Linked DNA regions of Homo sapiens: all the other regions are linked to region 1. Evidence: fine-mapped expression QTL. A gene starts in region 1. Each other region holds a variant in brackets. All regions are shown on one strand. Distances are between the middles of the regions. Region 1 holds the start of RAP1GAP2 (RAP1 GTPase activating protein 2). Region 2 overlaps RAP1GAP2 (RAP1 GTPase activating protein 2). Region 3 overlaps RAP1GAP2 (RAP1 GTPase activating protein 2). Region 4 overlaps RAP1GAP2 (RAP1 GTPase activating protein 2). Region 5 overlaps RAP1GAP2 (RAP1 GTPase activating protein 2). Region 6 overlaps RAP1GAP2 (RAP1 GTPase activating protein 2).

The links. PIP is the estimated chance that this variant, and not a neighbour inherited with it, causes the effect.
Region 2: its variant is the best candidate, but not a certain one, in a credible set for the expression of RAP1GAP2 in monocytes (Fairfax 2014, PIP 0.81).
Region 3: its variant is the best candidate, but not a certain one, in a credible set for the expression of RAP1GAP2 in thyroid (GTEx, PIP 0.59).
Region 4: its variant is the best candidate, but not a certain one, in a credible set for the expression of RAP1GAP2 in whole blood (INTERVAL, PIP 0.71).
Region 5: its variant is the best candidate, but not a certain one, in a credible set for the expression of RAP1GAP2 in lung (GTEx, PIP 0.68).
Region 6: its variant is the best candidate, but not a certain one, in a credible set for the expression of RAP1GAP2 in lung (TOPMed, PIP 0.52).

What each region holds. Positions count from the first base shown.
Region 1 is chr17:2,793,975-2,798,058 of GRCh38, reverse strand. RAP1GAP2 (RAP1 GTPase activating protein 2) reads right to left here and starts at 1,621. Exons shown (of 25, transcript NM_015085.5): 1 at 1,488-1,621. The coding sequence starts at 1,531.
Region 2 is chr17:3,032,512-3,036,595 of GRCh38, reverse strand. RAP1GAP2 (RAP1 GTPase activating protein 2) reads right to left here. Exons shown (of 25, transcript NM_015085.5): 25 at 1-3,204. Among named protein-coding and RNA genes, the nearest start is that of OR1D5, 29 kb to the left of the region's middle. The variant G/AAAAG (reference allele first, on the strand shown) is at 1,619.
Region 3 is chr17:3,002,842-3,006,925 of GRCh38, reverse strand. RAP1GAP2 (RAP1 GTPase activating protein 2) reads right to left here. Exons shown (of 25, transcript NM_015085.5): 15 at 1,486-1,557; 16 at 885-971. Among named protein-coding and RNA genes, the nearest start is that of RAP1GAP2-AS1, 39 kb to the right of the region's middle. RefSeq lists enhancers at 2,958-3,007, 3,178-3,307. The variant C/T (reference allele first, on the strand shown) is at 1,881.
Region 4 is chr17:3,026,571-3,030,654 of GRCh38, reverse strand. RAP1GAP2 (RAP1 GTPase activating protein 2) reads right to left here. Exons shown (of 25, transcript NM_015085.5): 22 at 3,585-3,711. Among named protein-coding and RNA genes, the nearest start is that of OR1D5, 35 kb to the left of the region's middle. The variant T/C (reference allele first, on the strand shown) is at 2,514.
Region 5 is chr17:3,011,647-3,015,730 of GRCh38, reverse strand. The region is part of intron 17 of RAP1GAP2 (RAP1 GTPase activating protein 2); the gene reads right to left. Among named protein-coding and RNA genes, the nearest start is that of RAP1GAP2-AS1, 48 kb to the right of the region's middle. The variant CTG/G (reference allele first, on the strand shown) is at 1,747.
Region 6 is chr17:2,969,097-2,973,180 of GRCh38, reverse strand. The region is part of intron 8 of RAP1GAP2 (RAP1 GTPase activating protein 2); the gene reads right to left. Among named protein-coding and RNA genes, the nearest start is that of RAP1GAP2-AS1, 5.2 kb to the right of the region's middle. The variant C/T (reference allele first, on the strand shown) is at 2,016.

The DNA of each region.
Region 1 (4,084 bases):
AAATCTCAGGCCTGGCTTTGCCTTGTGCTCTGGAGCTGTGGGTCTCAACACAGAGGGCTTCATATGGAATGAAGCTAGGCTGAGACCGGGACCTGTGCACCCGGAGCTTTCTGGCGACCAGCCTTCCATCTGCTCCACACCTCCCAGAGAAAGGCGGGCCTTGGAGGGCACAATCTAATTGCTGGGCCCTGCCCTGCAAGGCCCACAGCCAAGACACACACACCCCTCCCAACCAGAAGCCAAGTCCTCTGCTGCCTCCCGGACACTGGCACCTACCCTCGGGGTGGCAGCTCCCAGATCCAGGCGTCAGGGAGGGCCCGAGAGCAGACACAGGCGACGCTGTGCCATCTTCTCATCCGCACCATCCCATCTGCCAAACATGGAGTGCCCACAGTCCCCCCCTGCCAGAGGATGGATGGCAAAGTGCTTTTGAAGAGGAGGAAGAGGGAAATAAGCCACACACACGGAAGCGAAAAATTACCGAGGAACACAGCCCCTCTCCCCCTCGCCCTTCGTGCCACCCCCATTAGTCCACCATTTTCCACACCGGGACACCCCCCGGCCACCTCCCGCGGGGCCCTCTCCCAGTCTGACAACGCCCCCAGCCCAGGCACTGAAAGGAAACCGATCATGAAAACCACCAGACTCTGTTCCCCAGCTGCGAAGAAGCTGCCAGCACTGGGAACCAGAGACAAGCCTTTGGCCTTCGTGTGCCTACCTTCTGCCCCCCGCCGGGAAGAAAAAGCACATCCCTCATCCCAGACAGAAGCTTAGAGGCAAGAGTGTCCAGAGGGCCAGGCAGGAGGCTGGGGACAGATGCAGCTGCTCAGGCTAGGACAGAGCTAGGGTGGGCTGCCTGGGGTGCAGGTGGGAGACCTTCTCTCACAACCCACCCCCAAGACAGCAGGCAGCCCAGAGGTCCAGCAGGTACAGACTCCCCTGCCACAAGGCCACAACAACAGCACAGACAGGAGCATCACACACACAAACACGCAGACACAAGCACACACAGACACAGAAGGCCAGAAGTGCAGACAGGCAGCTGCCCACATGCACAGGCACACACCTCACACACGGTCACACGGACTGGCAGTCACAGCCACACACACACGCCTGCACACACAGGCTCAAACGCGCACACACACACTTACACATAATCCCAGACACGCACACACATACATGGGAACCTGCGGACACAGAGACACACACATTCAACTGCAGTCACACTCATGCTATCCACCTCCCCACGGGCAGCCGGCGCAGACCTCCAGGATTCGCCAGCAGATTGTGCCCAGGGACAGTGGGGAAGGCTTACGGTCTCTGATGTCCCCACCAGGATCCTGCATCTCGACCTGCCAGGGCGTCAGCAGACCCAGCTCTCAGGCACAGCCCGAGCCCCTCTGTTCCCACGGCCGCCAATGCACTTAACAAGACTTCACTTCTAAGTTCTCTCCCATCATTCCCCCACCCTCCCACCTGTCACCCACCATCCGAAGCCCCCAAAGGAGACACTGCGCTTCCGGCCAAACATGGTTGTGGCTGCAGAGCCCGGGGTCCCAGCGATGTCCCAACGACGTCCCCGGGGCTGTCCGCAAGAGGGCCGTGGTACAGCGGGGTCAGTGCCGGTGCAGGGCGGGGAGCCCAGCGTGGCACCTCCCTCTTCGCCTGCCCCCAACCCGAGCTTCCTGTGGGTGAGGCTGCAGAGCTGGGAGGTGTGTCCTGCACTCCAGGAGGCACCAAGATAGGCCGAGGAGGTTGTGGAGGGCAGCTTCCCCACACCCAGAGGAACCCACAGCTCCGGAAGGGGCTCGGCTGGCAGATTGCTCCACAGCCCCAGTTAGCAGCCCGGCCCACACAGCCCCAGCTTCCTGGAACCCAAAGGCGCCCCAAGGATTCCCACAGCCACGCCTAGGAGGGACAGAAAGATTCAGCTGGAAGCCTCAGGGACGCCTGAGCACTGGGGACCTTCACACCCACTCCCGAGGGCTGCCTGAGACAGGGACCTTTGCCTGCCTGCCCCACCATGGCTCGGCACACGCCAGAGGAACCAGCCACACACATGTCATTCCACTAGCACACGTGGATGTAAGTATACATGCACACGCATGGGCACAGGGGCACGTGGGATGCACACATGGACACACACACGCCCAGGATACCCAGGTACACACAGATACATGCACGCAGACATACGTATCATTAGACACCTGTACACACCTGAGCACAGCGCGGCACACACGCTCCCGTGCACATCCACACACCACTTCACACAGGCATCAGTAGACACACCTGCACACGCTTCTCACATACTGACAAAGCCCCATTGGACACGTGCACAGACATGAACGCATACACATGTGCCCGCAGGCACTCATCCACATACTCAGACCACATCACACTGCAAGGGGCATTCGCATGTACACACACATGGGCACAGAGCTGTACCTGTCAGCCGCCCCCCACCCCCGCCGCCAAGTGTCTAGACAGAGGTCAGAGCAGTGGCATGCTTCACGCTGGCTGTGTGGGGTGGGGGGGCGGTACCCATGTGCGGGTGGATTTGTCTTCCCAGCTGAACCGCAGGGTTCGTCCTCATCTCTGCATGCTCAGGTGCTGGTCCTCATGCCACAGGGCTAGCGTGTCCTGCACGCATCCCAGTCTGCACACCACAGGGCCAGTGCTCATCTCTGCACGCACTGGTGCTGACCACACCTGGTACACAGCAGGCACTTACTAATGGCAGCCCCTCAAAGGGATGTGGCACGTACACTACAACAGACACTGGGGGGAGTGGGCACAGATAGGGCCCCAGGCCCCACCCTACCCCCAAGCAGTGGAGAAAGGGAAGAAAACGTCTCAAAAAAAAAAAAAGAAGAAGAAGAAAGGCCGGGTGTGGCGGCTCACACCTGTAATCCCAGCACTTTGGGAGGCCAACGCGGGTGGATCACCTGAGGTCAGGAGTTCGAGACCAGCCTGGCCAACATGGTGAAACCCCATCTCTACTAAAAATACAAAAATGAGCCAGGCATGATGGCAGGTACCTATAATCCCAGCTACTCTGGAGGCTGAGGCAGGAGAATCGTTTGAACCTGGGAGGCAGAGGTTGCAGTGAGCCAAGATCATGCTGTTGTACTCCAGCCTGTGCAACAAAGAGCAAAACTCCATCTCAAAAAAAAAAAAAAAAAAAAAAAGGAAAAAAACGGCCCTAGCTGGTGCCATTGGCCTCTCTCTCTGGCCAACCCTCCCTGAAATTTCCTCTCTGGCACCTGCTGCCACTGTGAAGGTCCTAGACTCCGTGCTGAGGTGCCAGGGGCCAACCCCAGCTTGTGGACGAAGGGTACAAGGATTTCTATTTTCTTGACTCCTTCACAGCAGGGGACAGCACAGGGGCCTCAAGCCCTGAGTGGGCTGGGGGAGCAGCTTCAGGGTCCTGGGCCAGAGCAGGGCTGGGGGCTGACTCTCTACCTCCAAGGCAGCTAGTCCCCAGCAGGAGCCCGGAGGCTTCCCCCAACCCTCACCTCTGCCCCAGGAAAGTTAGGATTGTGTGGTTCATGCTCTGGGGTGGCTTCAGGCTGCTGGCTTCCCACAGGATGGCCACTGCAGAGTGCCACAAGCGCCTCTCTCCCCAGAGGCACCCACCCACACCCAGGAAGTGCTCAACAGGTACCGTGGACAACTTGGGTCCTGCCTGCCCTGCCTCCATCTGAGAAGAACCCTCTGCACTCAATCCACCTCCAGGGTCAGGAGTGGGCACCTGACCAGGCCTGGCCAGCCAAGGGGACTGGTTCAGGAGACCTAAGTAAACCCAACAAGACACCATCCCAAGAGGCTTCCCCTGCTGAAGCATGAGATGAAAGCCTGGGGCTGTGGAGAGTGTGGGGAAAATGAAACCGACTCACAGGAAGGCAGAGAAGAGAACTGACAGAGAAAGGGAAAGAGGAGAAAGATCATGTCTTTTTTTTTTTTTTTTTTGAAGAGTCTCGCTCTGTCACCCAGGCTGGAGTGCAGTGGCACGGCTCACTGCAACCTCCACCTCCCTGGTTCAAGTGATTCCCCTGCCTCAGCCTCCCACATATCTGTTTACAGG
Region 2 (4,084 bases), 240 kb before region 1:
TCCCTTTCCCTCCTCGTTTTCTTGGTTCAAGCTGCATCCAAAGCCCAAGGGTCCTCACTGAAAAATCCTAGAGACTATCCCCCCTGATGAAAAAGAGCAGAAACTGCAGCCTCACCAGCATCCTTGACTGCTCACCTCCATGCCAGTGCCAAAGCAGCAGCTAACTGGCTTCCCCAAAACCCAGGGCCCCAGGAAACGCAGCCACTTATTCAACCAACCATGTAGGCGCTGCAGAGGAAGGGACCCTGGGTTGAGGGTTCTAATCCCAGCTTTGCCAACAGCCAGCTGTGTGACCTCAAGCAAGTTACTCCCCTCACCTGGGCTAAGATTTCTCATCTGGACGATGACATGGTTGGATGAGATGCTAAAAAGAGCCAGCAGGCTTGTGTTGAGATGATGCTGACAAAGCTGAACCACTGAATCTTTTTCAAGAAACGTCATTTTACATGATTGGCATAGACAGACACTCTCATTAAGACCTTCCATCGCGAGCTTTTCTGCACCTGTTTTTAAGCGTCAACTGAGCTGGAGGCATATGGGTGACCCTACAGTGCCTGAAAAGTAGTTTCTTCAGTGAGTCAGGCAGTTCCCAGAGCCAGAGATGTGTCCCGGAAAACATCCCCTCGTGGAGATCACAGTGGAAATGCCTCAAACACCAGCGTGAGCACCATCTAGATGAGCCTAGTCACGAGGGCCAATGAGGTTTGGGCAAATCTTTGAGCCCCAAGACTGGGCGCAGCATAAAAGGAAAGACATTTTAGATCAGAGCAGATGTAGGGACAGCGTGGGGGAAACAGCCCTCCAGGAACCCGAGCTGCCCGCCCCGTGGTCTAGGGGAGGGAGGGGAGGCTGGGCCATCCTTGTTCTCCTCCTCCCTCTCAGCACTGCCCGGGTGGGCTGGAAGTGCACACTCTGGAAGCCACAGGATGGAGCTCCTAGAGATAGTGAGGCATGACCAGAGGGAAGAGGCATTTGGGGTCCTGTTCAGATCATTCCAACAGCAAACCGGGCATGGAGACCCCATCTCAGGTCTGTGCTTCTCTGGGGGCCACCCAGCCATCCTGCCCACCAGCTCAGAGGCAGGGACAAAGCCCTCCCAAGAGGCAGCAGGCAGCAAGGGTCAGCCAGCGCAGTGGGGACAGGCAGGTATGGGATTCCCAAATGGGACAGCATGGTGACAACCTGGAAACCCCAAAGGACCCCAGATGGCAATGTGACACGGCCCATCCACCAAGCACCTGTAATGCCGGCTTCCCACAGAGGCGAGCCAGATCCTGCAACTGTTCTTAAAGAAATGCAGTTTGACCTTGCCAGTGCCTCCAGAAGCCCAGCCAACAAAACGCGTCCAGAACGTACAGGCCTCTTTCCAGCCGTGGGGGCTGCTACGGTGACTCTTCATAAAAGCTAAACAGATATTTTGTTGACCTTCTAACAAGAATAAATTTTACTAGACTAGTACTTTAGAGAAAGTACTAGCAAAGGGAGAGCTCCTCTCCAGCTTGCAAACAGGACTCAATCATTCCCACACACGTGGCGGGGAAGAAAGATCACAATGTTGCTTGAATGGCAAAAGCTATAGGGAGAATTTCACAATGTCAGTTAAAAAAAAAAAAAAAAA[G/AAAAG]TGTAGTATTTATATCTTGGGCACAGGTCCAGATCCCTATGGGAATAAAGCATTCAGCTGGAAATCCTTGTCATTGGTCGTGGGGCAGGTGCCCAGCCAGTGTCACTCTGCAGCCCCGTCTGCACTGAAAGGGGCTCTTCAGGCTCGTTGTACCTGGAGGATGCCCACCTTAACCCCAACCCGGGCCCATCGGCAGAGAAGCCCACGGCGCTGCAGACTCGGAAGGGGGAGAAGCCAGGAGGGGATGTCCTTGGAGGTGAGCTGGCTGTCCCAGCAAGGGGGCTCTGTGGAGGGTGGGGGTGGCATGTGGGTCACAGGGTCTGACCCACACCCAGATGGGGTCCAGGTTGCAGAAACCCTTCAGATGTGACAGCTGCCTACAGACCCGCAGCTGGAGAGGGGAACAGGATTGGGGGGTTGAGCCCCAGACGCAGCTGCCCAAGGGCACAGTAGCTGGAAAAGGCCCCAGGGCCAGGCTGGGCCCCCCAAGACTCCAGGGGCGTAAGCTGCTGAGGGACACTGTGCCCCTTCCCCACCCAGGGGCCTGATCAGAACCCGCAAGTCATCCCCCCCTCACCTCTCTCCTCGAGTAAGTGGGGAGGGGAGATAACGACGTCTTCCTTGAACCCCCATTGTCAGCAGAGACCTGGGCTCCGGCCTGGCCCTCAGGCCCGAGGTTTTCCTCAACCAACACAGCAGCATCTCAGCACTGGCTCCTTTGCTCTCCCTGAATTCCTTCTCACTCCTGGCTTCCCACCCCTTTGTGGGAAAATATCTTCTCAAAGGGAAGAGACTGCCTCGGGGCTGCCCCTCCCTCCCCTCACCCCACAGCAGCCATAATCAGGAGAAACCGGGTGGGACCCAAAGTCCCCGCCTCAGTCCAGGAAGTGTGCAGCGCAGTTCTGGCCCGTCCAGCTCTGGCTCTGAGCTTGAACTGGCTGGAGCCCCGCTCACGGTACACTGGCAGCAGGGGCAGGGCAGCCCTGGGCCTACGTCAGCAGATGGGAAAGGCGTTCAGCACAGAAGCAGATAGACGGTTTAGAGCTCCAGAGCTACGGGGGCAATAGCGCCGAATTTTATCAGGATGGCCTCAAGGATGCTACGAATCTTGGCTCCTGGGAACATGGGGCCTCCACCACCGAGTGCGTTCCTGGTAGTAAAGCCTGCCACGTTCAGGAAGGCACTGCCCTGTGGCCAAGACCCTCACCGAGGCTCTGCTCCCACCCCCTACTCTGTCTCTGAGGCAGACCAGCTCCCCAGTCACTGCTGAGCTCCCCCCAGATCCCCCTTTGCCCGACACTTTTCCTCTCCAGGATGAATAGGATGATAAAGGACCCGGACATCACACTGGGAGGTCAGGAGCAGGAGGAACCTGAGGAAGGAGGCCTCGTCCAGAGATGGGAGGGGCTGGGAGGGCATGTAGGTGAGGGCGGAGGCAGGGCTGTGGCCAGACTGGGACACCTGGACCAACAGCACATCTGTGGGCACGTGGCCATGGGGCAGCAGGGCTGGGACTGTCAGGGTCGTGGACGGCACTCCCAAACTGCTGGTACAGGAGCCTTTTCCAGGACAGAAGAGGGGATTCCCTGAGGAGACAAGGAGGAGGCGGCGATGAGCGAACATTCCGTACAGGAAGGAGGGGACGACGCGGACGTCGGGAGCAAGGGGTGGGGAACACGCCTGCCCATGGCTACAGCTCACTGGATACACTCAGGAGCAGGAGGGCACCTGATGTAAGGGTGCCCCACCTTGCGTGGCCCGAGAAGCTGCGCATAGCCACGGCTTTGGTGGGCAGTGGCGTCCAGAGTGCGTGATGGGAGCCGGGGGTGAAGGTCCATATGCCCATTTGTCTTCTGCTTTTTCATAAATCAGGTTGAACACAGAGTGGGTTCGGTTGTACCCCTCCTCTTGGCTCCAGCTGTGACTCTGACCCCTGAAGCCCCATGTGGGGAGAGGGCTGGGAGCTCAGATGGGTCTCTGGTGACTTCCCCAGCAGAAATCCAGGCCTTGATGGGGGCGAGCTGGACCCACGGCCACTCTGCTCAAACCACGTGCCCCCTCAAAGCAGGCAGGGGAAGAGGCCTCCTGGGGTGGTCCCTCACAGTGCTGACTCCCGACAGGGAGGGAGAACACACCTCAGCCCAGGGCCTCCGCCAAAGACACAAGGAGGGAACAGCTGCCTGAGGGCAGGGGAGCAAGGGAGCCCTCAGGAACTCCTCCCTCCTGGGTCAGAAGCGGGCTTGGGCGACTCCCCTTCTGCCTGCGGGAACCAGACCCCATCGGTGGAAGGGAGGCCTAACTAGTACGTCTAGTCCAGTGTCACTGGGAACCCCCTTCCCATCCGCACACAGGCCATCTGCCCCTCCTTCCCCATTGCAGGTCTTCAGGGGCGAGTAGGAGACTCTTTGGACATCCCCAGCTGGCGGCATCTCTCCGGCCATTCTGAGGTTACAAGGCCTCTAGTTC
Region 3 (4,084 bases), 210 kb before region 1:
AGCTGTGCTGACCTCCATCCCAGCCTAGTGCTGGCACACTGTACTATAACTATCTATTTAGTAATGACCCCCTGCCCCACCCCCCGACTACCCTGTGTACTCTCCAGGGATAGAAACTGTCTCACTTATCCCCATATCCCAGGGAACAGAATAGGGCCTGACACATAGTAGGTGCTTTAAAAATGACTGATTGGGCCAGGCGCAGTGGCTCACGCCTGTAATCTCAGCATTTTGGGAGGCCGAGGCAGGCGGATCACGAGGTCAGGAGATCAAGACCATCCTGGCTAACATGGCAAAACCCCATCTCTACTAAAAATACAAAAAATTAGCTGGGCGTGGTGGCGGGCGCCTGTAGTCCCAGCTACTCGGGAGGCTGAGGCAGGAGTATGGTGTGAACCCGGGAGGCAGAGCTTGCAGTGAGCCAAGATCGGGCCACTGCACTCCAGCCTGGGTGACAGAGTGAGATTCTGTCTTGAAAAAAAAAAAAGGACTGATTGGCCAGGCGCAGTGGCTCACGCCTGTAATCCCGGCACTTTGGGAGGCTGGGCCAGGCGGATCACCTGAGGTCAGGAGTTCAAGATCAGCCTGGCCAACATGGAGGAAACCCTGTCTCTACTAAAAATACAAAAATTAGCTGGGCGTGGTGGCGCACACCTGTAATCCCAGTTACTAGGGAGGCTGAGGCAGGAGAATCACTTGAGCCCGGGAGGCAGAGGTTGTGGTGAGTCCCAAGATCATGCCACTGCACTCCAGCCTGGGTAACAGAGCAAGACTCTGTCTCAAAAAAAAAAAAAAAAAAAAAAAAGATGGAGGAGCCCTGGATGAGGCTGGCTAACAGGTGGCCCAGCAGTCAGGAGGGAGACCTTCAGAAACCACACTCTCACCTCCAGCTTTGCAAACTTGTCCGACTTGCAGCAGGCGTTCTCGGCATTGGTGAGCTTGGTGAGCAGAAACTCCCTGAATTCCGGGCCCTGGAAGAGACAAGACGGACCTCAGGTCTGTCACTCTCGGCTGTTGCCAGAAGGTCTTCAGCCACAGTGACAGGCAGGCAGAGCCGGGGCCATGGGGAGAACCCCTGAAAAGTCCCTTCCGACAGCGGATCATTTCTAGCCCAGGCCAAGCCCACTTGCAAATATCCCAACAAGGAAACCCGCTTCCCTGGTCCTGGGAAGCCACAGTGGCACTTCCACGACTGGAGCTCATTCCTGCCCAAGGCTCCTTGACCGGGGCTCAACATAAAAGCCCGTCTTTCAGCAGAAAAGCAACCCCAGTGTCAAACACCCTGACAAGTGGTCCTATGCTGGGCCAGACTGGCAGCATGAAAGAGGTGGGGAGAGACCCCAAGAAAGGAGGTTCCCCCCAAAACCTGCAAAAGGAGCTCCCTAATGTTCCCAGCCTGAATTTGGCTCCATCCCAACCATTGCTACTCAAGCACTGAGACCTGGCATCGTGGATGCGAGAGGGGCAGAAGGAAGAGTGTCCTACCTTCTGGAAAACGGGGGGACTGGGCAGAGGTGGACCAAAGGTGGGCACATCTTCCCGCGCAGTGACAGAGACCTGAGTGAAACAGAGTCATGGTACGGACCTGGAGGGAAGAGACGAGCGCTGCCCCTACGGGAGCCACGCTCCTTACAAAGCTACTCACCTTCTCCCTCCTCCTCTTCCCAGAACACAAACAAAATACTCCTGTGAGCATCGCCAGCACAGGCCCTGACCCTGTTCCTAGAAGTGGGGCCGGACGGTGTGGGGCCATCCGCAGCCTCTCATCTGCATTCCTGGAGGCCAGAAGCAGGTTTGGCAAGATGACTGGACAGGGCTGGGACCCTAATTTTAATGCCATACAAGTGCCCGGGAGATGGCATCTCGTGACCTCATTCGAC[C/T]GTGACGCTAATCCTACTGAGAAGGCACAGGGAGAACTGTTCTCCCTGATGAGGAAACAGATGCCCAGAGACACACAGAGAAGCCCCCAAGTCCCACAGGTGATTAGCCGCAGAGGAACAGAGCATCCAGACCTCTCCCGACCCGTCTCTGGGGTTCTCTTCCCAAGCCTGACTCCTCAGCTCGGCCATAAATCAGAATTGCTTCAAAATTGCTTCAGGTGTTTAAAAATACAGACTGGGTTCATGGGCTCTGGCCTAAACCTGCCGAATCGGAAGGGTAGGGCCCCCCGGAAACTCTCGTGCAGCCGGTGGACCCGTGTTCGGGAGCCCTGGCCCCACACACGGGGTCAGCCAGTCCTAGGCCCAGGCTAGGAACTGAGGGTGGGGCGCGCACCTCTGGCACCCTGAGTGAGACTGAGCTTTAGAGTGACGGCCTCGAGGTTCGCTGCATGGGGGTCGCCCAGGCGTGGGACGGGCCCCACACCCCGCCTTCCCTCTGCACAGAGGTGCCCTGACTTCACCTATTCTCAGCCCACGAGGCTGTGAGGCTCTCGGGAGACTGCCCTCCCTTCCCTACACAGCCGCTGACGTGAGCCCAGCCCTGGCGTGCTGCCAGCCTCCCCGGCCTGTGAAGTGGAGCAGATGCAGAGTCTGCCAGGCCGGGTGAGCAGGCAGCTGGGCACCGAGCCAAGGAAAGGCCCTGCCAGAGTCCGGAGGGGAAACGGAGCGGGAGAGAGCTGGTCAATACGGGCTTTCTCTTCTCAAGCTCCAGGCTGTCTGCCCAGCCCAAACTGCAGTGCCCCGAGTCAGGAAATGGTGCGCGTTCGGCTGACGTGATTTCTGGCTGGGCTCCAGCAGCTGAACCCGGTTCCCTACCACCACCCACCAGGCACCGGTGGCCCAGGTCAAGAATTCAGTCACAGAGCCAGAATCAGGGGTGGGGGTGTGGGAAGGCTATGGGGAGACTGCAGACCGTGGGCACCTGGGACAGAGGCCAGAGGGCAGCCCCAGCTCTGCCCTTCCCACCCCACTCCCCCTCCTCCTCCAGCCTGCATTAGAGTGGTCTGTGCCGACCGTGTAAGTGGCTTCAGACACATCCTCAAGTCCATCCAACCCTCCAGCTGGACAGTCCCACAGCAGAGCCCTGTGGGCCACACGGAGGACAGGGCCCTTCCTTGCGACGTGCGTTCACCTTCCATCCTCATTGTGCGCCTCTCTTGACCCCATTCCAACCAGGCGGCCAGGCCTTTGTTGTTCCCCCCTCTTGGGGACATCTGGGTCACTGGACTGAAAGCAGAAGTTGCCTGAACACAGCCCCACCTTCCTGTTTTCTAAATGCAGCGAGGGCCTCCAGCGAGGGCTTGGAGGGAGGGAGAGAGGCAGATGCAGGTGACTCTGGGGAAGGGACCTGCATGGCTGGAAGGAGGAAGGAGCTTGGTGTGGGTCATGAGGATGCACTGGGAACCTCAGAAAGCTTCAAACGTGACAAAGGCCCCACGCCCAAGAGTGGCCTGGGAGCCGCGGTGGCACACAGAGCATCGTCCGAGCAACAGACAAGTCGTGACGGGAAACGGGGAGGGGGCTACAAAGACAGGGCCCTCCCCGGCGGTGGGCTTCACCTGAGATTCCTGACACCTTTGAGGACTTCCGGAGAGGGAGGCAGGGATAGGGGGGAGGGAAAGGGGTAGTCCTGGTGATGGCTGAGCTGGACTTTCCTTCCAAGCAGGCAGGATGAGGACTACACTCATTTCTGAAAAATAATCCAGAGTGATGCTTCGTGCACACCCGACTCCGTGGAGCCAATTTCTCGCCTGCTCTGATGGCTCAATGACCAAGACCGCAAGCAGACCCAGACAGGACCTCAGCCACAGCTCCCTGGCTCTGTGGCCTCAGGCCTTAAGTGGGTTCAGCTCTCAGCTTCCATTTCCTCCCTCTAGCGAGAGGTCTTGTCTCACCAGGGGCTTGTCAGGATTCAAGACTGTGCGTCTAAGGACCCAGCACCGTGCCTGGCATGAGCAAGCAGCTGGTAAGGGGTAACCACTGTCGCCCAGTGGCCTTTTCACTTCCCCTGCTGACCTGCACCCAGTAAAGGGCTCCTGAAATAGAGTTTCCCCAAAGCACCTTGCAACCCACCACACACACACACACCCAAGCACGCCTCCTTCCCTCCCGCAGGATGTCAGGGCTAGCAGCCTGCAGGTGTC
Region 4 (4,084 bases), 230 kb before region 1:
ACTTGAAATTCGTCACTTCCTACTTATTTTTCTCTGTTTTACGATTATCTGTGCTCTTACGTCTATTGTATCCATGTGGTAGAAACACCCTAAAGATGGTGGCTACAGTATATCTTCTTCCCAAGTCCACGTTCGAGGACATCACGTCAGTAGCTTGAGATCAGCCACGACAAGTGTATTTACACCACAGAAACTGGTACATGCTACAAATCATGACTTGATTGATTGTTTTGTTGTCTAGACTTAAGGAACTAATAGAAAAAAAGGAATTTACATGAAACTTCAAAACATGCTGTGTCTGCAGCGATTACATTGTGAATAGCACAAAAGAAAACTGAGGAAATATCCTTCCGGGGTTTGAAAACTTTTCTCGGATACAGCAAGGAAATGACTCATGTCACTGACGAATGAAGTTCTCTTAATACAAAATACTCATGGCCGGGCGCCATGAGAGTGAGTGTGTGTGTGTGTGTGTGTATAATATATATTATACATATGTATATACATATAACATATAATATATATGTATATATAATATATACATATATGTATATTATGTGTATCTATAACATATGTATATTATATGTATATACTATATATGTATATATAATATATACATATAAAATACTTATTAACAAACATGGTAATATCAGTCCACATTCATGTCAGAATTACACACATTCATCTCCTGCAGCCTTAAGTTGGCTACAGATAAAAAGGTGAAGCAAACACCACTAAAAGCATTCTGTGAGAATCAGTTGGACATATGGGACTTATGGTAAAGAATATTATCTAGTATTTGTACACTGGGTTTGACATCCATCGTATAATAAAATTCCGTTAAGTGTGTGTGAGTGGTGGCAGAGCCCGGTGTCAACATTTCCCGCTGTGCCCCGCTGGCAGGAGGGCCACTTGACTTTCTGGCTGTCCTCTGGCCGAGGGTATGGAAAGCTTAGTGCAGCCTTCCTGGAAGCTGCTGGCTGGTTCGTGGTGCTTCGAATCGAGGAGTTCCACCCAGGGCTACAACACCTCTGTGTAACCTATCAGTCCTCTTCTGTGCCCCAGGAAGCCCAGGTAGGAAATGACCATGATCAGATATCTGACATTATGGAGACTGTACGTCAGGACGTCAGGCCACCTCTCCCCACTCCACCCTGCCTCTCCCCAGACTCAGCCAAACAGCATGAAACCGGTTCCCAGATCCCCCCAAGCCCACCCTGATCCAGTGGGTACCAAGCACATCTTTCGTGGGCTGGGGGTGAAAAGCAGCCCATCGGGGTTAAATACTGTGTGGAGAAAAGGTGTGTAAGAGGCAGCCTCACCGTGTGGTGTGGGAAGCACCGGCCATAAGTCACCAGACCCGCTCCAGGTCCCTTCCGCCCTCGGTGACCTTCAGCAACCTGCAGAGACTCTCTAATTCCTTTACTCAAAACCTTCCTTACTTTGACGTTTATTTAACACCAAGTGGGGGCCAGGCTTGCTTACAGATTCTTTCATTCATTCCTTCAATATTTAAGTCTTATTTAGAAAACAAAACAAAACAAAACAAAAACACCAGGTCAGGCGCGGTGGCTCACGCCTGTAATCCCAGCACTTTGGGAGGCCGAGGTGGGTGGATCACGAGGTCAGGAGTTCGAGACCAGCCTGGCCAACATGGTGAAACTGTGTCTCTACTAAAAATAAAAAAATTAGCCGGGCATGTGGCACATGCCTGTAATCCCAGCTACTTGGAAGGCTGAGGCAGGTGAATCACTTGAACCTGGGAGGCGGAGGTTGCAGTGAGCCGAGATTGCGCCATTGCACTCCAGCCTGGGTGGCAGAGTGAGACTCCATCTCGAAAAAAAATCAGGGAATTTGTATTTCCACCCCCTTTTACAGATGAGGAAACTGAGGCTCAGAGACGTGGACCTGTCAATGCTACAACCAGGATTTGAACCCAGCTCCGCAGCTGCCCAACCACAGGGGGCTGAATGAGAGGAGGCACGTGAACTCTTCCACTCACTGAGAAACACGCATGCAAAGGGTCACTGGCTGTGGAATCACGATCTTCCCTTCATCTCTGACCCTGCAGGTTCCCTTTGCAACATCCCTTCGCTGTGTGAACCCCAGGAACATTTTGGCTTCAGCCACCCTGAAGGCCTGTTGGCCCTTCCTGTGTTTCTACCATTGAGACTAGAGTTTTTCAACCGAATGTCATTTGGGGTCAGAGAATTATTTGTCTGATGTGGCTAGGGGGCTGTCCTGTACATTGCTTATCAGCTTCCGTGACCTCTGCCCACTAGATGCCAGTAGCACCCCTCCAAAATTGTGAAAATTAAAAATGTCGCCAGACATTGCCAGACATCCATGGGGTAGCAAGACTGCCCCCGGCTCAGAACCGCTGACTACACTATTGTCTCATTCCCATTCTTTAACCAACACCGAGGTTAACAGTTCCAGGCCTCGTACAAGCATGAGCTCCTTTCATCTTCATACAACCAACCCTCTGAGGCAGACACGACTCTTCCCCTCCC[T/C]TCATTTTCTGCTTGGAGAAACTGAGGCACAGACAGGCTTGGTGACTCGCCCAATGACATGTCTAGTAAGCAGCAGACCCAGGATTTGGACCCAGGCTCAAAGTCCTGTGCTGCCCTCACGAGGGCAGAGACCCGGAGCACCCGCCCAGCAGTGCCCACCGCACAGGTCTACCTGAACGGCCCTCAGGTGCTGGCCCCCCTATTCTGACCAACTGCAGGGATCACAGAACCCCAAAACGCCCAGACTCCTGCTCTCTCTGAACCCCTGCTACTGAGCCCGTACATTTTACCTCCTTGATCTCTCCTGAACCGAGGTGCTTCTGCCGCAGCTCCCCTCCCCTCCTCTCCCCTCCCCTCCATCCCTCCCCTCTGCTCCTGCTCTCTACTAATCCATTCTACACTCAGCAGCTGCAGCAGCCAAAATGGACTTTCTCAACTCCAGATGGTGCTTCCCTACTTAAGAACCTTCAAACACTCCAACAGTGGCCGCTAGCAGAACAAAATCCTCACCCGGGGCCCGGGGCTGACCCAGCCTGTCAACGCTCCGGCCTCTCTGACGCCTGGCTCTGTGAACCCAGCTGCCATGAACACGTGCAGTTCCGGAATACCCGCTCTCTCCTCTCCTCTGGGCCTTTCCACATGCTGTTCCCTCCCCCTGCAGCCCTTCCCCCGTCTTGTATTATCAAGACCCCCGACATGACAGACGGGCCCTGGCAGCCCTGGAGCGCTGGCAGGTGGGGAGAAGGGTTGGAGCACTGGCAGGTGGGGAGAAGGGCTAATGGAAAGTGCTCAGCTTTCCCACTGCCAATCCCGACTCCTCCGCTGTGGGATCTCCCACAAGGCCTTCAACTCTCTGCCTCAGCTTCACAACTCTCAGTGTAAGAAGAGCTTAGGAACTTGGGCATCTTAAGGCTGATGAACAGAAGAGGCGGGCGCACAGAGCGGAGGGCCTCACAGCTGGGAGGAGGGGTGAAAACTGGCCAGTTCAGCGTGGCTGGGGCCCTGCTAACAGTGGACAGGGCACAGCCTGCCCTCCTGGTGACGTCACACACACCACCAGATGCCACTGACCTGTGGGACTCCGGCTCATGATGATCGGGGTGGCAGCTGCCCCCAGGCTGGGGCTCTCGCTGCTCGGGGACGGGCTGTAGACAAACACCTCCTGCTTGAAGGGTGAGGTCGTGGACGGCTGGCTGCCCTGAGGAGAGAGGCAGGGTGAGCGAGGCCAGCCCACCCTCGGCAGCTGCGCCCACGCAGGCCTGAGGCAGCCCCCAAAAGCCCAGGACAGCCGCTGCCTCCTGCTCCCCACTTGGGCCTGCTCTTTCTTTCCTGCTGACTTCAACCCTGGTTCCAAGCTATCCTGCTCCAAGAAGGACCTTTGACCCAGCCCCCTGGGGCACTGGCCACTCACCACTCCAGCCAGGAACCCCAAGGCAGGGCACCATCGGGTCTGGCCCCTGCCCTCTGCTGCTGCTATGTCACTCTGAGAGAGAGGTCCCCTCACCCACTGCGCCCAGGGGGTGGTGATGGCCAACGAGCCCACCTCTCGTTTCCATTCTTCCCCTTTCCTC
Region 5 (4,084 bases), 220 kb before region 1:
ATTCTCCTGCCTCAGCCTCCCGAGTAGCTGGGACTACAGGCGCCCGCAACCATGCCTGGCTAATTTTTGTATTTTTAGTAGAGATGGCGGTTCACTGTGTTGGCCAGGCTGGTCTTGAACTCCTGACCTCGTGATCCACCTGCCTCAGCCTCCCAAAGTGCTGGGATTACAAGCGTGAGCCACCACGCCCAGCCTTGAGTCATCTTAGGAAGAGCTGGGTCTACAGCAAAGTGGTCCCAAGAAAATGGCAGGGCTGCTGCTCCTGACCCAAACAACAGGTCTCCCTGGGCTCTCTGGACGTCAGGATTTCTCCAAGCTTGGGAAGGGCAAAGAACCCCATCCTGCCTGCTTTTCTATCCTGACAAGGGATGCAGACTCAGGAGGGCCATTTGTAAACCGGACAGCCCCCTAGATGAGCTACTGACAGTGAGGTGTGTAGCCCACCAGCTTCATACCCCTGATTTGATCGGGCATCTCTTATCTGAGTCAAAGATGCCCCTGGAGGGACATCTCTCACTCCCTCTCTATACCATAGAACAGGGTCACCTAGCAACAGTTTTCCTACCGCATGGTTAAAACAGTCAGCGCGTTCTATTTACCCCGTCACGCAAGCATCATAAAGCCATGTACCCTTTGAACAACTGAGGGCAGGACAGGGGTGGTGGCACACTGAGGTGTCCCTGGAGGAGCGGCGAGCTTCCTTTTTTAAAATAAATAAATAAATAGAGACAGGTTCTTCCTGTGTTGCCCAGGCTGGTCTCAAACTCCTGGGCTCCAGTAAGCCTCCTGCTTTGGCCTCCCAAAGTGAGCCACCAAGCCTGGCCGCAGCCAGGTTCCATGAATGAGTTAAGTGCTCCATAAATCTCAGCATCTCGGCCAGGGGCGATGGCTCACGCCTGTAATCCCAACACTTTGGGAAGTGGAGGCACGTGGATCACCTGAGGTCAGGAGTTCGAGACCAACCTGGCCAACATGGTGAAACCCCATCTCTAATTTTTGTAAAAAATACAAAAATTAGCCAGGCATGGTGGTGTGTGCCTATAATCCCAGCTACTCGGCAGGCTGAGGCAGAAGAATTGCTTGAATCCAGGAGGCTGGGGTTGCAGTGAGCCGAGATCGCACCACTGCACTCCAGCCTGGGTGACAGAACGAGACTGTCTCAAAAAAAAAAAAAAAAAAAAAAAATCAGCATCTTTACATTCTCTTGGTGCCCTTGTGCGTTGACAACACCATCATCAATCATGACATTCCAAACTAATCATTTATATTCTGCAATCCAGTCCAGCACCACACAATGACACTGCAGTCAACAGACTGCATAGATGACACTGGTCCTATTAAGATTCTAATACTATATTTTTACTGTACCTTTTCCATATTTAGATGTTTAGTATACAAATGCCTGTCTTTGTGTTACAATTACCTACAATATTCAGTAAAGGAACCTGCTGCACAGCTTTGTAACCTGGCAGCCACAGGCTCTATAGCCGACGTGTGTCCTAGGCTCGACCATCCAGGTCTGTGCTGGCAGCCACGCGCCCTATAGCCAACGTGTGTCCTAGGCTAGACCATCCAGGTCTGTGCTGGCAGCCACACGCTCTATAGCCGACGTGTGTCCTAGGCTAGACCATCCAGGTCTGTGCTGGCAGCCACGGGCTCTATAGCCGACGTGTGTCGTAGGACGTATTCCCGTCATTTCTCAGGACGTATTTCCCGTCGTTGAGTGACACGTGATTGTATTCCTCC[CTG/G]TCTCTTTCCCAGAAAGGATTCCATGTGGGAAATAGTAACTCCTGTGTAACAGTATCTGGTCTCATGAGCTTCACATACAAGATCTATTGAATCTCTACAATTCTGAGATGCAGAGAGGACAGGCATTGGACAGAAAAAGTTCTGAAGGGTAAATTATTGCCCAAGCCCACATAGCAGGTAAGAGATAGAGCCAGGATCCAAACCCAGAACCCTGGGCTCCAGATAAAAGGGTCCCTGTATATTAAAAACTGGTCCAGGTTGAAAATACAATTCAACTGGTGGATGACTGAAGGATGATTAGAAACCACGAATTTTCAAGGCTCCCACCAAAAAAAAAAAAAAAAAAAAAGAAAAGAAAAGAAAAGAAAAACTCAGAGGCTGGTGTCAGGGAGGACACTGGCTCCTCAATTAGTCCTGGTGCAGCCGCCGGAGTCAGCAAGGTAAGTGTGAGGAGGCGGCAGGCTGGGTAAGTGTGAGGAGTCAGCACCGGGTCTTCTGTCCCTCTAGCGGGGCAAATGCAAGACAGATGCCAACTCTGCTCCAAGAGACCATGACTCCGACCCAGGAGTGGAGCAGGGCCAAGCACAAGGCCTGAGCTCTCTCGTGGACCCCCAAAACAGCGGGGCCATCCTGACATCACAACTCCCCATCAGGAGGAAAAGGAGGGGGCAAAGACGCCAAAGACCAAGGATTCTTGGCGGGGCCCTGCTGTGCTCCACCTGCCATCACTGGCACTGCTAGGGGGACCGGCTTACAGGTACCTCCCTGCAGGTACTGCGGGGCCACAAAGACTGCCAGGGATAGCTGTGGCCCCTCCTGCCACTAGGGGTCAGGTCAGACCAAGGCATGAACTATCACAGTCCCTCAAAGGCTGGGAGAAATGAACCTGGCAACTCCCAGCTTGCCACGGTCCCGGGTCCATCACAGCCAGCCCGGCAGCCTTCTCCTCCCCGGTCCTCTGCTCCACCTCTGTGCGATGAGGTCAGTGGAGGGCTGGGTGAGCTCAGCATTTCTCAAAATGTGGCCTGCACGTGCTCTACGTCCATCTGACGTCGGTACAGCAAGTATCATCACTTTTCATTGCATTACGGACCAATAACAACCTCATCAACAGCTGGCAGTAACTGAGAATGGCACTGGAAAATGGTCTAGAGATCAGCATCGTTCAAACATAACGTACAGCTCTTTCATCGTGAAAGCTGTTCTCGCAAGACTCCCGAGAATCTGCTCACAGACCCCCAACCCCAGTGGCCCCATGGGCTGCGTATGCAGTGCTGACTTCAGGCCTTACCTATTTACCCTATAGGAACATCTCTTAATTTGGAGTGATCACTGCAAACTTTAGGTTTGTTTTTTTTTTTTTTTTTTTTTTTTTTGAGACACAGTCTGGATCTGCTGTGCAGTGGCGCAATCTCAGCTCACTGCAACCTCCACCTCCCAGGTTTGAGCAATTCTCCTGCCCCAGCCTCCCAAGTAGCTGGGATTACAGGTGTGCACCACCACGCCCATCTGATTTTTGTATTTTTAGTAGAGACAGGGTTTCACCACGTTGGCCAGGCTGGTCTCGAACTCCTGACCTCAGGTGATCCACCTGCCTCGGCCTCCCAAAGTGCTGGGATTACAGACGTGAGCCACCGCGCCCAGCCAAACGTTCAGTCTTTATAATTGGAAGGTTTTTTTTTTTAGATCTAAGTGAAAATGCAAACTTTAGAAGTGTTTGTAGAACCAGCAGATTCCTGAGACTATCTCCAAGCAGTTCAGCTTGAAAAGTAGGTCTAGATGTCCAAAAGCCAACTGTTCTGTGTCTCATGGGAGAAACGCTTCCATTACAGCTGGGAGGACAGAAGTGAGCTGTAAGGAACTGCTCCAAGCGGGGTGAGGTGCCAGGCGGCACAACACAGGGCAATGGCAGGCCTGCTGCTCAGGAGAAAGATCAAGGGTCAGTGCTGACGTGGGGGAGCAGCAGCCTCACCAGGGGCAAGGATGGATGGCTGAGATGGCTTTCAGCCCTGGGGATTCTCAGTTATGCTCCCATCAGCCTGGGAAATGAGAACTTTGACAGGAAGGAGGCCGGGCGCAGTGCCTCACGCCTGTAATCCCAGCACTTTGGGAGGCCAAGATGGGCGGATCACCTGATGTCAGGAGTTCAAGATCAGCCTGACCAAGATGGTGTCCCTACTAAAAATACAAAAAATTTAGCCATGTGTGGTGGCGGGCACCTGTAATCCCAGCTACTCGGGAGGCTGAGGCAGGAGAATCGCTTGAGCCCGGGAGGCAGAGGTTGCAGTGAGCCGAGGTCGCACCACTGCACTCCAGCCTGAGCCTGGGCAACAAG
Region 6 (4,084 bases), 180 kb before region 1:
CCTCTCCTATGACTCTTAGGATAAAATCTGAGCTCCTAAACATCACTGGTACAGGATCTAGCCTTTTCTTACTTCTCTAGCATCATTTATCAACCCTACACACACTCAGACACACCCTCCACATTGCCTTCAGTTCTCCCTCACCACCTACGTCTCCCATCAGCCTCACTAGCCTATAATGATCCCTGTCCCTAAGAAGAAGATGATGAGTAAGACCGAGAACAGAAACAAGAATCTCTAAAACGCAGTGCATTTGGACTGAATGCCTTCTATGGGCAAGTAGCAAGAACTCATTCCTCACAGTATCTCTACAACCAGACAAAGTCCGGCATATATTAAGCCTTGGGTAAACAAACACTGAATGAATTTCCTAATATTAACCATCCTGCATTGGTAAAATAACTCTTTCTTGGCTATAGTGAATTACTCTTATTAGTCTATTTAGATTTGAGTTTCTGGGGCTGCTATTTTATTTACAACATTGATTTCTACATTCGTAAGGAATATTGGCCCCTACCCTTTTTTTGCATCTCATTTGACTGATTTTATTCAAAAAGATCCTTTTTTTTTTTTTTTTTTTTTGAGAAGGACTTTCACTCTTGTCACCCAGGCTGTAGTGCAATGGCACAAGCTCGGCTCACTGCAATTACAGGTGTGCACCACCACGCCCAGCTAATTTTTTTGTATTATTAGTAGAGACAGGGTTTCACCATGTTGGCCAGGCTCATTTCAGGTTTCACTCATGTTGGTCGTGAACTCCTGACCTCAGGTGATCCACTCGCCTTGGCCTCCCAAAGTGCTGGGATTACAGGCGTGAGCCACCGTGCCCAGCCCATAAAGCTCTTTTAAGCATTATTAATTGGGAAGCTTTCCATATTTTTTTTTCTTTTCTCTTGAACAGTTTAAATAACATAAAATCTGCTCCTTTAAAGTTTAAAACACCTTCCTGCAAGACCATCTAGATCTAGAAACATTTGAAGAGATAATTCTTTGAGAACTTTTTCAATTTCTTCCACAGTTACCGGTTTGTTCAGGTTTCTTTTTTACCTCATCTTAAGTTACATTTGGCATACTTTCCTAGAAAGGCATCTGTTTCAAATAAAATTTCAAATAAAATTAGAAACAGAAGCAATTTAATAGCATGAGTTGAACACAGCATCCATTAGTAATCATTTAATCTTCTTCACATCTGTGGTCATGCATCTTTTTATGACTAATTTTGTATATTCTTATTTTCTCTTCTCATCTATATTCGACTAGCTAGTTACCTATCTTATTGCTTCTTCCAAAAGAAACCTAGGTTTATCAAGTCTCAAATTATTTTTATTTCTAGTTTATTTATTTCTGCTTTAATCTTTGTGAATTCCTTCCTCTGGCTTTCTTTAGGTAACAATATTGATAATAATAATAGCCACCATTACTGAGCAGCTGCAGCATGTAAGGTCCTCACTCACCAGGACATGTAAGCACTCAATAATTTCAAGGTACATGCTACCATCATCATTTCACAGATGAGGAAAATGAGACACAGAGAAGTTGCTAACAATAATAACAACTTGCAAATATCACTCTTATTTTTATTTTACTGTATTATTATTATTTTTATTTTTGTAAAGATGAGGTCCATTCTATTGTTCAGGCTGGTCTCGAACTCCTGGGCTCAAGTGACCCTCCTGCCTCAGCCGCCCAAAACGCTGGGATTACAGGCATGAGCCAACACACCTGCCAGTTCTTTTTCTTATTTAATAGGAAACCATTTAAGGTAATAAATTTTTTTCTAAGTATTGCTTTGAATACAACCCATAGGTTTTATGTATAGTATTATAAATGTCATTACTTTATAAATATTCTGTAACTGCAGCTTCTATTCCCTTTGGCCTAAAAGCTACTTAAGAAAGTATTGGGATTGTTTACTTCTCAGTGGTTTAGTGGTTTTTTTAAATCATTATTTTGTTATTAATTGCTAGTTTTATCATCAAATTGTAAGTGAATACATCCAGCAGAGAGCTTGCTCT[C/T]TGAAATGTATTTAGTTTTACTTTGTGGTTCAGAAGTTCCTAATTATAGCTGCTATCGATAATTACCTACAAGTAAGTTAGTTACATAGGTCGACTGATTGATGGATTGATTGATTTAGTTTATTTATTTAAAAACAGGGTCTTGTTCTGTCACCCAGGCTGTAGTGCAGTGGCACAATCATGGCTCATTGTAGCCTCGACCTCCCAGGCTCAAGCAATCCTCCTGCCTCAGCCTCCTGAGTAGCTGGGACCACAGGTGTGTGCCACTTCACCCAGCTAATTTTTTTTTTAAGAGATGGGGTCACCCTGTGTTGCCCAGGCTGGTCTTGAACTCCTGGGCTCAAGTGATCCTCCCGCCTCAGCCTCCCAAAGTGCTAGGATTATAGGCATGAGCCACTGTGCCTAGCCAAGATTTTAAAAAATAGAATCTTAAATAACAGCCCAATTTAAAAAGAAGCAAAGCTTATAAACTGTTCATAGCAAATAAATAGAGGCAGTTCTTAAATATATGAAGAGATGTCCAACATGATTCATATTAAGATTATAAATTTAAACAACACTAAATACTATTCTCATCTATCAGACGGGCAAAAATCCAAGTGTTTGACAATACATTCTACTGAAGAGGCTTTGGAATAAGAAGCACTTTGATACATTACTGGTGAAAGTTGGAATTTACACAGCCCCTACAGAGGGCAATTTAACGTTATCTATCAAAATACAAATGCATTTATGTTTTAACCTAGCTATCTCATCTGAGAAACTATCATAATCCATAAAAACTGAGTCTGCACAAGGTTATTCATTTAATCATTATTGTGTTACCAAAATATTGGCAATGGTCATTAACAAGGGACGTATTATTATTATTTTTTTTTTTTTTTTTTTTTTTGAGACAGAGTCTCACTCTGTCGCCCAGGCCGAAGTGCAGTGGCGCCAAATCGGCTCACTGCAACCTGCGCATCCCGGGTTCAAGTGATTCTCCTGCCTCAGCCTCCCGAGTAGCTAGGGTTACAGGTGCATGTCACCACGCCCGGCTAATTTTTGTATTTTTAGTAGAGACAGGGTTTTGCCATGTTAGCCAGGCTGGTCTTAAACTCCTGACCTCAGGTGAGCCATCTGCTTTGGCCTCCCAAAGTGCTGAGATTACAGGCGTGAACCACGATGCCCGGCCCAGGGGATGTATTAAATAAATTATTTCACATCCATGCAATGGAATACCATCCAGCAGTAAAATAAATTAAGACATTCTCTATATGCTAATACGGAAAAATCTCTAAGATACATTGTTAAGAGAAGCAAGTTACAGAATTCTACAGAATCCTGTGGAAATAAGGAAGGAAATAAGAATATATATATTTAGGCCAGACGCGGTGACTCACGCCTGTAATCCCAGCACTTTGGGAGGCAGAGGAGGGCAGATCACCTGAGGTCAGGAGTTCGGGACAAGCCTGGCCAACACAGCGAAACCCCATCTCTACTGAAAATACAAAAAAATTAGCCAGGTGTGGTGGCATGAGCCTGTAGTCCCAGCTACTTGGGAGGCTGAGGCAGGACAATTGCTTGAACCTGGGAGTTGCAGGTTGCAATAAACCAAGATTGCACCACTGCACTCCAACCTGGGCAACAGAGCAAGACTCCATCTCAAAAAAAAAAAAAAAAAAAAAAAGAATATATATATTTACACATCTTTACATATCTTATTTATTTATTTATTGTGTGTGTGTGTGTGTTTCAAATGGTTGGGTTGGAGCCTAGAAGTCTAGGTTTTGGTTTTTGTTTGTTGGGCTTTTTTGTTTGTTTTTGCTTTGTTTTACTTTGTTTTAAAGATCCAAAATGATTCTGATGTAGCAGGTCCACAGAAAACCACTGATCTACTATGCAATCAATTTGTGTAAATATTCCAAAGGCAATTGAAAAGAAGTAAAATCTGTTAGAGGATCAAAGTCTGATAGTTAGATACAGAAACAGATATATATATATATAGATAGATAGATAGATAAAGAAAAATATGTATATAATTGATATTGAGATGAATAAATGTCATTTCTAACCCTAGTATTGATATG